Linked DNA regions of Homo sapiens: region 1 is linked to region 2. Evidence: fine-mapped expression QTL. A gene starts in region 2. The other region holds a variant in brackets. All regions are shown on one strand. Distances are between the middles of the regions.

Region 1 (5,386 bases), 21 kb after region 2:
TGATCCTCCTTATCATCTCCCAGAGTACTGGGATTATAGGCATGAACCACTGCACCTGGCCACCTCTACCTTTAGTAAAAATCAAATCACAAGAGGAAAATCAATGAATGGAGGCGCTGTAGTTTTCATTTGCATTGATTTTTAAAAACAAAGAGGACCAGAATATAATAGCCACTGTTTATTCAACACTGCTATATGCCATATACATATTGCCATAAGGTATGGCAAATTTTTCACAGAAACCCACTAAGGTACGTGTAGTCACTCAGTTTTATAGATAAGGATGCTGAAGCTGAGGGAGATTAAATGTCACCCTAGAGGGGAAGCTGATGAGGCCTAGAGGTGAAATTTAAAGCCGTATGTGTGTGTGGTGTGTATGTTTGTATATGTCATGAAGATACTTTGTTGCTTCAGTATTATTTATCAGAGATATATAACACATTCACATCATTTTAATCCTTTGATCCAAGATATGGGGTAGAAATTGATGTGGAATAAGTATAGGAGTAGAAATAGTAGAATTTAACATAGAAATTTGCTGATTTGTAATGTAATCTATCTTCTCTTTCTCTTTCTGTTTCCTTTCTGATGTTGGTATATTTAAAATTTTTAAGTAAGAAATTATCACGTTAGGGAGATTTCCTAAAAAATAATCCTGGCGCAGTCCAATATCATCAGTACTTCTAGAAGCAAGGAACTCACTAAGGCAAGAAAATAAATAAAAGGTATTCAGATTGTAAAGGAAGAAGCAAAGCTGTTTTTTATTCACAGAAAACATGATGGTCTATAGAGACAATCCTGCTAAAACAAACGTGCGAGGTTTAGCAAGATGGCGGGATACAAGTTTCATGTACAAATACGAGTTTTTTTATAGTACTAATGAACGATTATAAATTAAAATTTTATAAGCACATTTACAATACTATAAAAACATGAGACACTTAAACATAAATTTAACAAAATATGCCCTGCACCTGTATACCAAAAACTGTAAAATATTGCTTGAATATTATAAAATATTGACAGAGATTAAGGAATATCTACATAAATGGAGATACATACAAAGCTCATGAATTAGAAAACTCAATTTTAAGATGTCAATTATTTCTGAATTGATTTATAGATTTGGTACACTCATTTTTTAAAAAAACAAGCTTTTTGGGTAGAAATTGACAAATATGTTTATAGTTATGGAATTCCAGAGAACTTAGAAAAGCCAAAACAATTCCGACAAGAACAAAGTTGGAGAACTTACATGATCTTATTGAAGTGATAATGTTAAAGCTTTAAAATCCAAATAATCTGATATTGGAACAAAGAGGCATATGGAACATAAGACGGAATCCAGAAATAGTTCTACTTAAATATGGCTAGTTGATTTTCAAGAAAGTTACCGATGTAATTCAATGGAGGAATTCTAGTCCTTGACATATGGTGCTGGAAGAATTTGACATCAATATAGGAAGAATGAATCTTGACAGCTGCCTCACAACAGCCACAAACATTAATTTGAATAAACTATAAATCATTAGAAGAAAACCTTCACTACTTTGACATAAGCCAAAAATATTTTAGGTAGGATACAAAGCTACAACCTTAAAAGAAAAATACATTACATAATTTGGACATCTTAAGTATTAAAATCATCTCTTTTTCAAATGACACTGATATAAAAACATAATACAAAAAGTGGGAGAAAATATTTGCAAAAGATATATCTGATAAAGCATTTGTTACCAGAATATGTAAAGAACTATCTTCATTAATAAGAAGGCAGACAACATGAAAAATAGGCAAAATGCTTGAGCAGTCTGTTCACTAAAGAAGATACCAGATGGAAAAAAAGTTCGTGAAAAAGATGGATAATATTATTAGTCATTAAGAAAGAAATAAAGGTGAATATCCACATAAAAGTTCTCAAAGATTCACAGCAGATTTTTTCATAACAGCCTCAAACTGGAAAATAAACAATAATGTGTTATTGTCCTACAGTAGAGTACTACTCAGCAAAAATACTCATATATTCCGCAAAATGGATGAATGATGGAAGCTAAACACCAAAAATTACATAATATTTTATTCTATTTGTATGAGATTCTAAGAAGGAAGGACAAAACTGTGGATCAGTGATTGACAAAAACCAAGTAATGAGGAAAAATAATTCATTATAAAAGTGCACCAGGAACTCTAGGGGTGATAAAAATATTTTATATAATAATTGTAGTGGTTGTTACATGACTGTATATGTTTGCCAAAACAAACGAAAAGCAACGTGCAGCCTTTTACCCCTGTATTAGTCTGTTCTCACACTGCTATAAAGATACTACCTGAGACTAGTTAATTTATAAACAAAAGAGGTTTAATTGACTCACGGTTCAGCATGGCTGGGGAGGCCTCAGGAAACTTACAATCATGGCAGAAGGTGAAGGGGGAACAGGCACCTTCTTCACAAGGTGGCAGGAGAGAGAGACAGAGAGTGCGAGAGTGCAAGTGCAGGGAAAACTGCCACTTTTAAATTATCATATCTTGTGAGAACGCCTTCACTATCACTAGAACAGCGTGGGGGAAACCACCC[C/G]CCATGATCTAATCACCTCCCACCAGGCCCCTCCCTTGACACCTGGGGATTACAATTTGAGATGAGATTTGGGTGGAGACACAGAGCCAAACCATAGCAACCCTTGATTACCTAACCATCCTCTGATTAACACTCTTGCTCCCAGGATAAAAGCAAGTGTCCTTAACAGTTTCCTATCTTTTTGAACCTGGAGGTACAGGTATAGTCTGATAATAGTTGTAGTAACACTGTTACATTTCTTAACAATGCATTTTAGTGGTGCGATCTCAGGTGATCTTTGCTTGTTTAGCCCACATTTCACCTAGTCTGACAGTTCTTTTAAATCAAAACATTAAAGGATTGTTTTGTAAAATAGTAAAACAACACTGAAGTAAGTATAGAAAGAGAATCCCCAGTTCCCGAACCCTCCCCAAAGGTGACTTCAGATAGCAGCTTGATGTGTTTTCATGGAGGTCTTTATACACACTACGTATAAATAGAGTGCAGGTATTACTTGAAGGCCTTTTTGCCCTAAGATCTCCAGGAAATTCCTTGAAGCCCACGAGTGTCTAAGGCCTTGAATCAAGATTTCTATCCAAGCTTGGGGTAAGGAGTTAAAAAGCATGGACATCCTTTCTGAGCTCCTTCCCTCACTCTGCACCTGCATGCATTGCCTTTGCTTCCTCTGCATCAGCTAGCATAGAACATTTAAGGACTTCACTGCTTTCCCAAAAAATAGTTTCAGACCAGTCATTTTTAGGAATTATAGGAAATTTTGATGAAGAACTAGGGTGTTTGAAAATACAATATATTGGAAGACCTCAGCCTTCTAGTACTTCATTTTCTCCCATGCTTTCTCCCTGTCCATCTGTGCTCTCCCCCTTTTCTTTCAGTGTTGTTTCCAGATATTCTGAATTCTTCACCCTCTATCACGCATAATTATTCACCTCTTCACTTCTCTCACCCAACAAACTTTCCATCTCAAATCTGTCAAGGTATACAGAAGAAAAAAGGGCCTTCCAGTCAATGAAATTCTCTTATAAGGAGTCAGTTTGAATTACCACCTTCCTCTTTGGATTTTTGCTGTTCCATATATTTTATAATAGAAGATATTTCATGTGCAATATTTTGGACCTGTTTTTCTCCAAATTAAGGGAACTACCAGAAAATAGGTTTCTTAATTCCCAAATTAATTAGCTAAAGTCAAAATATCTAAAATCAAATCATTTAAAATCAATTATCTAAATTATACAAATTAATGAGCTACAAAGATGAGTTATCATACATGTTTGCAAAATTCAGTGAAGTGTTTTAAGCACTTGTTTATATCACAACAGAACTTATAACAAGCAAGACCTGTCATGATTCATGTGCTATCAATAATGTCCCATGATATCACTCCATGACCATCCCTGCCATTCTCCTAGTTATTACCAACTTCTTATTCACATTTCTATGTTCACAGTATCACCATATGCTCAGTCCCATGTCACATATTTCTTCAGTTATCTTTGTGTTGAGAGTTTCTAAATGAATACTTATACAAAATTATCCTTTTAGGATACTTCCATTCTTATTATATTTTGGTATTATAGGGTCATAAATAACAAAATCTTTTCACATACAAAATTTTGCTCATATAATATAAATGGGATTACATATTATATGTGTTCCATAACTTTTTTACTTGTTTATTGACTTGTAAGAGATCTTTATACAGCTTGAATACTAATCTTTTATTAGCTGTATACACTACAAATATCTTCTCTGTGACCTAGAGATCATTTCATGATATTTGTATACATCTACTTTTTTAAACAGCCATATAATAATCCATCATATGAGAACACAATAATTTATCTAGGCTTCCTATGTAACTTCCTTTTTAAGAGCAAGAAGCTCTGCCTCCTATTAGCTGTGTTACTTTGGATAAGATATTTAATCTCTCTGAGTCTCTGTTGCTTCATATTTAAAATGAGGAAAAGTATTTTCTACCTCATATGGTTATAGGTGAGATTAAAGAAATAATGCAAATAAATTATTCCAGAGCTGGGTTTCTCAACCTAAGTACTAATAATATTTTGGGGCAGGATAATTGTTGTAGGGGGCTGTCCCATGCATTGTAGGCTATTTAACAGCATCTATGACCTCTACCCCTAGATGCTCAGTTGTGACAGCCCAGAATGTATGCAGACATTGCCAGATTTCTCCCTGGTATGTGTGTGTGTGAAGAAGGAGGCACAATCACACCCAGTTGAGAACCAATATTTTGGAGAAGGGCCTGGCAACTAGTGTCAGATATACTACTACATGAAAGTGGACATAGGCACAGCCAAAATCTGTAAGATGCTCTTCATATGGATTACATTATGGGTAGCTCTTGCTGCAGTTGTGCATGGTTGTGGCCATGAAGAAAGGTGGCCATATTGCTAGGCTTTTAGGTTTGTGTCATTTTTACACTAAGGCAAATAACAATAATTTCATAATATACAACTAATTACATAGATCTTTGCATGCCTGTGTGAGCATGCCTGCAAGAGATATTCCTGAAAATGATGTCTTTGAATGGGGGGTGGGGAGACACAGGGCTTGCGTTATTAAAAGTTTTATATATTCTGCCAAATCAACTTCTAAAAATGCTAGACCAAGTTACACTCTCACTAACTGTAGTTAAGAGTGCCTTTTTCCTCATATCTTTATCCATAGTGAATATTAACACAGTTATTAAATTTAAACATACTTCGTGAATTTTTAATGTTTATTTCCACAATTTACATTTTTTCTTTTGTGCATTACATCCTCATCATCCTTTTTATATGTTTCTGTTAATCT
Region 2 (5,386 bases):
TAGAGCACAAAAATTCCCCACACATTTCTCTCTTAGGCCTGTTCCTTCTGTAAACCAGATAAGTCATGTTGATAGTTGCTAATCACCAGCAGAGTTAGTGTTGCAACTCCTGATCAAGGAATTCAAATTGGAACAAAATACCATAGACAAATCAATTTCTATCACTTTCTAAAGCACCTTGGAGAGAATTTCCTGATAATTTCTGAACCTATTCAGTGTAAATCCTTGAATTAGTCAGGGTGATATATAAAAGAAATCATTCCTACCTTTCAAAAACATTGATAGTCTAGTAGGAGAAATAAGTACATAAGTCATTAAAACCCAAATGACTTATAAATGTCTCTAAAATATGTAAATAAATTATAACAGTATTTCAAAAGGGAAAAAAGAGAAGAGTTATCTGGGAATTAGACAAATCTTTCCATAACAATATTAACCTTTACCATGAAGGATTGGTAAAGATTATATATTAGTGGGAAAAAAAGGCAGCAATGCAAACTTACATTGGTAAGCTGTGCTTCTGAGTATATTTAACTTAGTTATACAACTCATTTGGTTTTAAAAAATCATGAATGTACTCTAATAAATATATACAATTTAATATGCATTATTCCTTCAGTTCTGCTTTTTGTTGTTGTTGTTAAAATATGTGTGAGAAACGTGTTAAGACTCATCTCCTACTGGAGGTGTTTCATTGAAATTAGCTTTCAATCTAAATAGCTTGCTATACTCAAAAAATAAACTGCCTCTGATTTTTTGCCTAGCTTTAAATCTGTAAAATTGAGTCTCATGAAAAAAAGCATTTAGGTTTCTAAGTAACCCAGATATTTCTTGAGCATCTGGAAACCCACATGTTAGTTACTCCAGCATTAGAGATTTTATAAGACAGCGTTTAGAGGCAGATCACTCTTGACAAAGTCACCTTGAGTGTTTTTGCCTTTGTTTCTAAACTCTGGACAACTCAAAGAAAGTATTATAGGACTCAGCTAATTCAAACAATGGCTTTCCTTTGAAATAAGATCGTCTGCTTCCCTTAAAGGCATAGTAGTCACCTTTGACACAAGGAACAGAAGGTAAAATAACAAAGGAAGTGGTGAACCAACCTCAGTTCTGGAATTAAAAAAAAAAAAAACTGATTTGCATTAATTATCATTTCTAGGTGTCTGGCCTAGTCCAGAGGATGCAAATGGCAGTTCAGATCAATCATCCTTAAATCGGATGTGAACGCTTTGATGTGGCTGAGGGAGAGTTGTGGAAAGGGGAGTAGGTACCATGAAGAGAATTGCAACAAAGGAAAAAAAAATATATGGGGTTGAATTGCCCCAAAGAGGACAGAAACAGCAAAAACATATTTTTTTATGTACAAGTAAAAAGTACAGAAGACAAAATAATCTCACCTGGTCTGAGATCTTTAGAATATAATGTTTAATGTTGATTCCCTTACTCTTACTCCTTTTAGGACTCGTGTGTGTGTGTGTGTGTGTGTGTGTGTGTGTGTGTGTGTAATGGGGTGGGGTAGGGGAAGGAGAGAAACTGATAGTACTGATGAATGGGGAGCTAGAAAGACAAGGAAGGAAAAGAGGCTCTGAAACCTAAGGGTGCCTACTGTCCTGGGAAACTTTAAAGCATATTCCATGACGAATTACATTATCTCCGGGCTTAGAAAATTCCGAAAAAGATGGGAAGACAAATCAAAGGCCTTTGATAAATGAGGCCTCAGTTTTGTGGTCAAGTCTGCACTAATTTTTGCCTTGTGTGATGTGCGAATTTGACAAAAAGAGGCGCTGGATTGAGGAGTGGGATGGGAAGGGGGAGGCACCTCTACCTGCACACGGGGGCAGGGGATGGATGCAAATCAGGCCTTCCCGAGTGGCCAATCAATAGTCAGGTGAGGGATTTTGGGTCCCCACCCCATCCCAACCGGCGTTTGAGCACGTGCACGGTGTTCTGGGACCTTTGTCCCGCAAAGTCACGCTTGGCGGGCACCCCTTGGTCCCTTTTTCTGGTCAGATGTGCTTGATTCTTTTCTGCTCTACAACCCACCTCTCTAGTCGTGTCTTCCCATCTCCCTACTCATTCCCTCCCGCGCCGCTGCGGGTGAGAGCCTTCAGCGGTGCGTCCTAAGGAGCGTGAGGAGTGTGCGGAGCTTGGCACACCAAGTTGCTGAGACTGTGACACCAGCCTCCGCCCGTTCCGCGCGGGTGCAGGCGGCGAGCCTCGGCTCGGACACCACAGCTCTCCTGCCCGCGCCGGGCAGTCCTCTGCCTGTCCAGAGGCAGCACTCCCGGCTCTCGGCTGGCTGTGGGTCTGTCTTGTGGGGCTCCAGCACTAGCCTGCTCGGCCTCGGAAACTCCTGCAGCGTCCAGAACACAGAAAATAGACTCATCTCCTAATTCGCCAGGGAGCTCGAGGGCTGCGGGGCCGCGGGGCTGCCTCCCCCGCTCCTCCCCCAACCCGACCCCACCCCACCCCCGCCAGGGCTTCGGCGGCCTCCCGGAGTCACACAGCCTACCCCCCCACCCCAACACCCCCTCCCCCGGCAGACAAAGGGCCTGGGCAAATTCGCCGCCCGGCCTCCTAGCGCTCCGGGGAGGCCGCTGCGCCCCGGAGTGGATCGCGCTGGAGGCGTGCGCCGGGCGAGAAGCCGCGGCCGCGGGAGCGCAGTATGGGGAAGAACCGCGAGATGCGCCTGACTCACATCTGCTGCTGCTGCCTCCTTTACCAGCTGGGGTTCCTGTCGAATGGGATCGTTTCAGGTAAGTTCTTCCGTGACTTTCTCGCTTCCTTTCCAGCCATCCCAGCGGAGACCGCGAACGTACGGGTCGGCAGGGCTGGTGCAACCGGTGCGTGGAGAGCAGGGCTCAGTGGGTAGCAATAAAAATGAGCTTGAGGTGCAGGTTAAGGGGTCAAGTTCGGAAATGAAGCACACTTCTGCCGGCCTCGTTTTAACCGTATGTGGAATAGTTTCCTTCTAATTAGAGCAATAATATTTGCAAAGGTACGTTTACAGCACCTGGAGGAAAATTAGAACGTACCTAAGTTGATAGCAACGCTCTGCTCTAGCATACACTTCAGAAATCGTTTACTCGTGCTGGAGTCTTTGCATCGGTTTTCTTTTCAACAATGAAGTGCGGTCACCAAACTTTGATTCCCCCTCCCCCGCCCCTAATATAATCGTACTTTTACTCTGAAAATGCTGGGGTCTGTAATCTGATCGCAAGGCTTCTGGGGTTGCAGAGTTTCAGGGTCTAGACGGGTGGTCTCCATTGCATTCAACGCGAGCGCCCTGTATCTATGGACTGTGAGCTTGGAAATGTTTGTGCTACTGGAACCGCGGCACTTTAAGCCCCGCACTTCTGTCTGCCCCGCCCGCAGAGCTGCAGTTCGCCCCCGACCGCGAGGAGTGGGAAGTCGTGTTTCCTGCGCTCTGGCGCCGGGAGCCGGTGGACCCGGCTGGCGGCAGCGGGGGCAGCGCGGACCCGGGCTGGGTGCGCGGCGTTGGGGGCGGCGGAAGCGCCCGGGCGCAGGCTGCCGGCAGCTCACGCGAGGTGCGCTCTGTGGCTCCGGTGCCTTTGGAGGAGCCCGTGGAGGGCCGATCAGAGTCCCGGCTCCGGCCCCCGCCGCCGTCGGAGGGTGAGGAGGACGAGGAGCTCGAGTCGCAGGAGCTGCCGCGGGGATCCAGCGGGGCTGCCGCCTTGTCCCCGGGCGCCCCGGCCTCGTGGCAGCCGCCGCCTCCCCCGCAGCCGCCCCCGTCCCCGCCCCCGGCCCAGCATGCCGAGCCGGATGGCGACGAAGTGTTGCTGCGGATCCCGGCCTTCTCTCGGGACCTGTACCTGCTGCTCCGGAGAGACGGCCGCTTCCTGGCGCCGCGCTTCGCAGTGGAACAGCGGCCAAATCCCGGCCCCGGCCCCACGGGGGCAGCATCCGCCCCGCAACCTCCCGCGCCACCAGACGCAGGCTGCTTCTACACCGGAGCTGTGCTGCGGCACCCTGGCTCGCTGGCTTCTTTCAGCACCTGTGGAGGTGGCCTGGTAAGCGCCTTCTTTCCCTAGCTCTCCATTTTCCCCTGCTGCTCCTCTCCTTGCCCATAGGTCAGGATGATTTGCATGCACCTTCTCCCCTTTCAGTGTGCTCCTTTTGAGCTTGGCCCTAGACTGCACCCCCAGGTGTCTACATCGTTTGCCTCCCATGGAACATCTCCAGGGCAGTTGTGTAAATCGGAAGTTTAATTGGGTGGATAAATGGCCTTCTCCTTCCAGATGGTTATGTGTCTTTCAAAACTGCGTGAAACTCTGCCTTTTCGTAACTTCTTCCCAATGGCTCAACTTCTTTCTGTTCTCCAGAGTTTTCCAAACTAAGCGCTCCACGTGATGTCTTTTAGGAACTCGAAAGACAACCAGTCGGCTCACTGATGAATCTCCTTCGTGTTTGCGCCGCACTCTCAGTTCCTCATCTGTTATCTTAGAGCTTTTTCATAACCTACTTCAAAGTTGAAAGAACAGTTCTATAGGGGATTACTCTGACAGTTGTCTAGAATTTAAACACATCCAGAGTCATACTGGACACCTGTTCACTGTTCTTGTGAAAGGAGTTGGGAGGGACTCAACTGAGAGACTGGAGGTTGAGTAACGGGTGACATTAGAATCCGATCTGTGTTCAAAGGGTTATGGTTCTGTGATTTACATTTCATTTGACAGTAGTTCCTTTTCTTCTTTCCACTTTTTGGAGGAAAGGAGCAAGGTGGAGAGCCTTGTTAAAAGGCCTGTTGGGATGGAAAGTAAAAGCCATTTGCTCTGTCAATGTAGAACATCATTTGATTTTTCTCCCTCTGTCACGATTCAGGGGTTGGGACAAGCTTCTATAAGTTGACCTTTGTGTGTGTGTGTGTGTGGGGGGGTCAAATATGCATAACATAAAATTTACTATTTTAACTGTTTCTAGATGTACAGGTACGTGGCATTAAGTACATTCACGTTGTTGTGCAACACCACCATGTCCTTTATGGTTGTTGCCACCACCATAGGCTTTACTATTAATTGGTTTAAGACAAAACTCATAAAATATCAAAAATGCACTTGTGATTTGTGGCTTCATTTTGCTGTTCATAGTGAGCCACTGAGAAATCCACAAGAACTTGCATGGAAGCAAACTGCTCATTTGGAGAAAATCCAACAGCAGTGGATAGCAGAAAATATCAGCACAATCAAAGCCACCCAAAACTACCACCTCCCCTGACCCAAGATCCCATAGTCAAATGATGTAAACTGTTGGACAGTACTCATAATGATGAATATTCAAATACGGGCATTTTTAGGCATAATTGAAAAAAATTGGCATGGAAAAATTACATGAGAAGCTTTTATTAAAAGGTTTTATGTGGAACTGA

Alleles and levels. Positions count from the first base shown, and alleles are read on the strand shown. Sizes are in standard deviations (SD) of each study's normalised expression.
For the expression in skeletal muscle of the gene that starts at base 2,572 in region 2, G is the high allele of the variant in region 1 and C is the other (moderate effect, 0.60 SD a copy in GTEx).

Evidence for each region. PIP is the estimated chance that this variant, and not a neighbour inherited with it, causes the effect.
Region 1: its variant is the best candidate, but not a certain one, in a credible set for the expression of ADAMTS19 in skeletal muscle (GTEx, PIP 0.53).

The regions. Positions count from the first base shown.
Region 1 is chr5:129,478,781-129,484,166 of GRCh38, forward strand. The region is part of intron 2 of ADAMTS19 (ADAM metallopeptidase with thrombospondin type 1 motif 19); the gene reads left to right. Among named protein-coding and RNA genes, the nearest start is that of ADAMTS19-AS1, 21 kb to the left of the region's middle. The variant C/G (reference allele first, on the strand shown) is at 2,576.
Region 2 is chr5:129,457,727-129,463,112 of GRCh38, forward strand. ADAMTS19 (ADAM metallopeptidase with thrombospondin type 1 motif 19) reads left to right here and starts at 2,572. Exons shown (of 23, transcript NM_133638.6): 1 at 2,572-2,756; 2 at 3,376-4,031. The coding sequence starts at 2,666. ADAMTS19-AS1 (ADAMTS19 antisense RNA 1) reads right to left here and starts at 2,963. Exons shown (of 2, transcript NR_125748.1): 1 at 2,699-2,963; 2 at 1,833-2,353. RefSeq lists an enhancer at 1,531-2,493.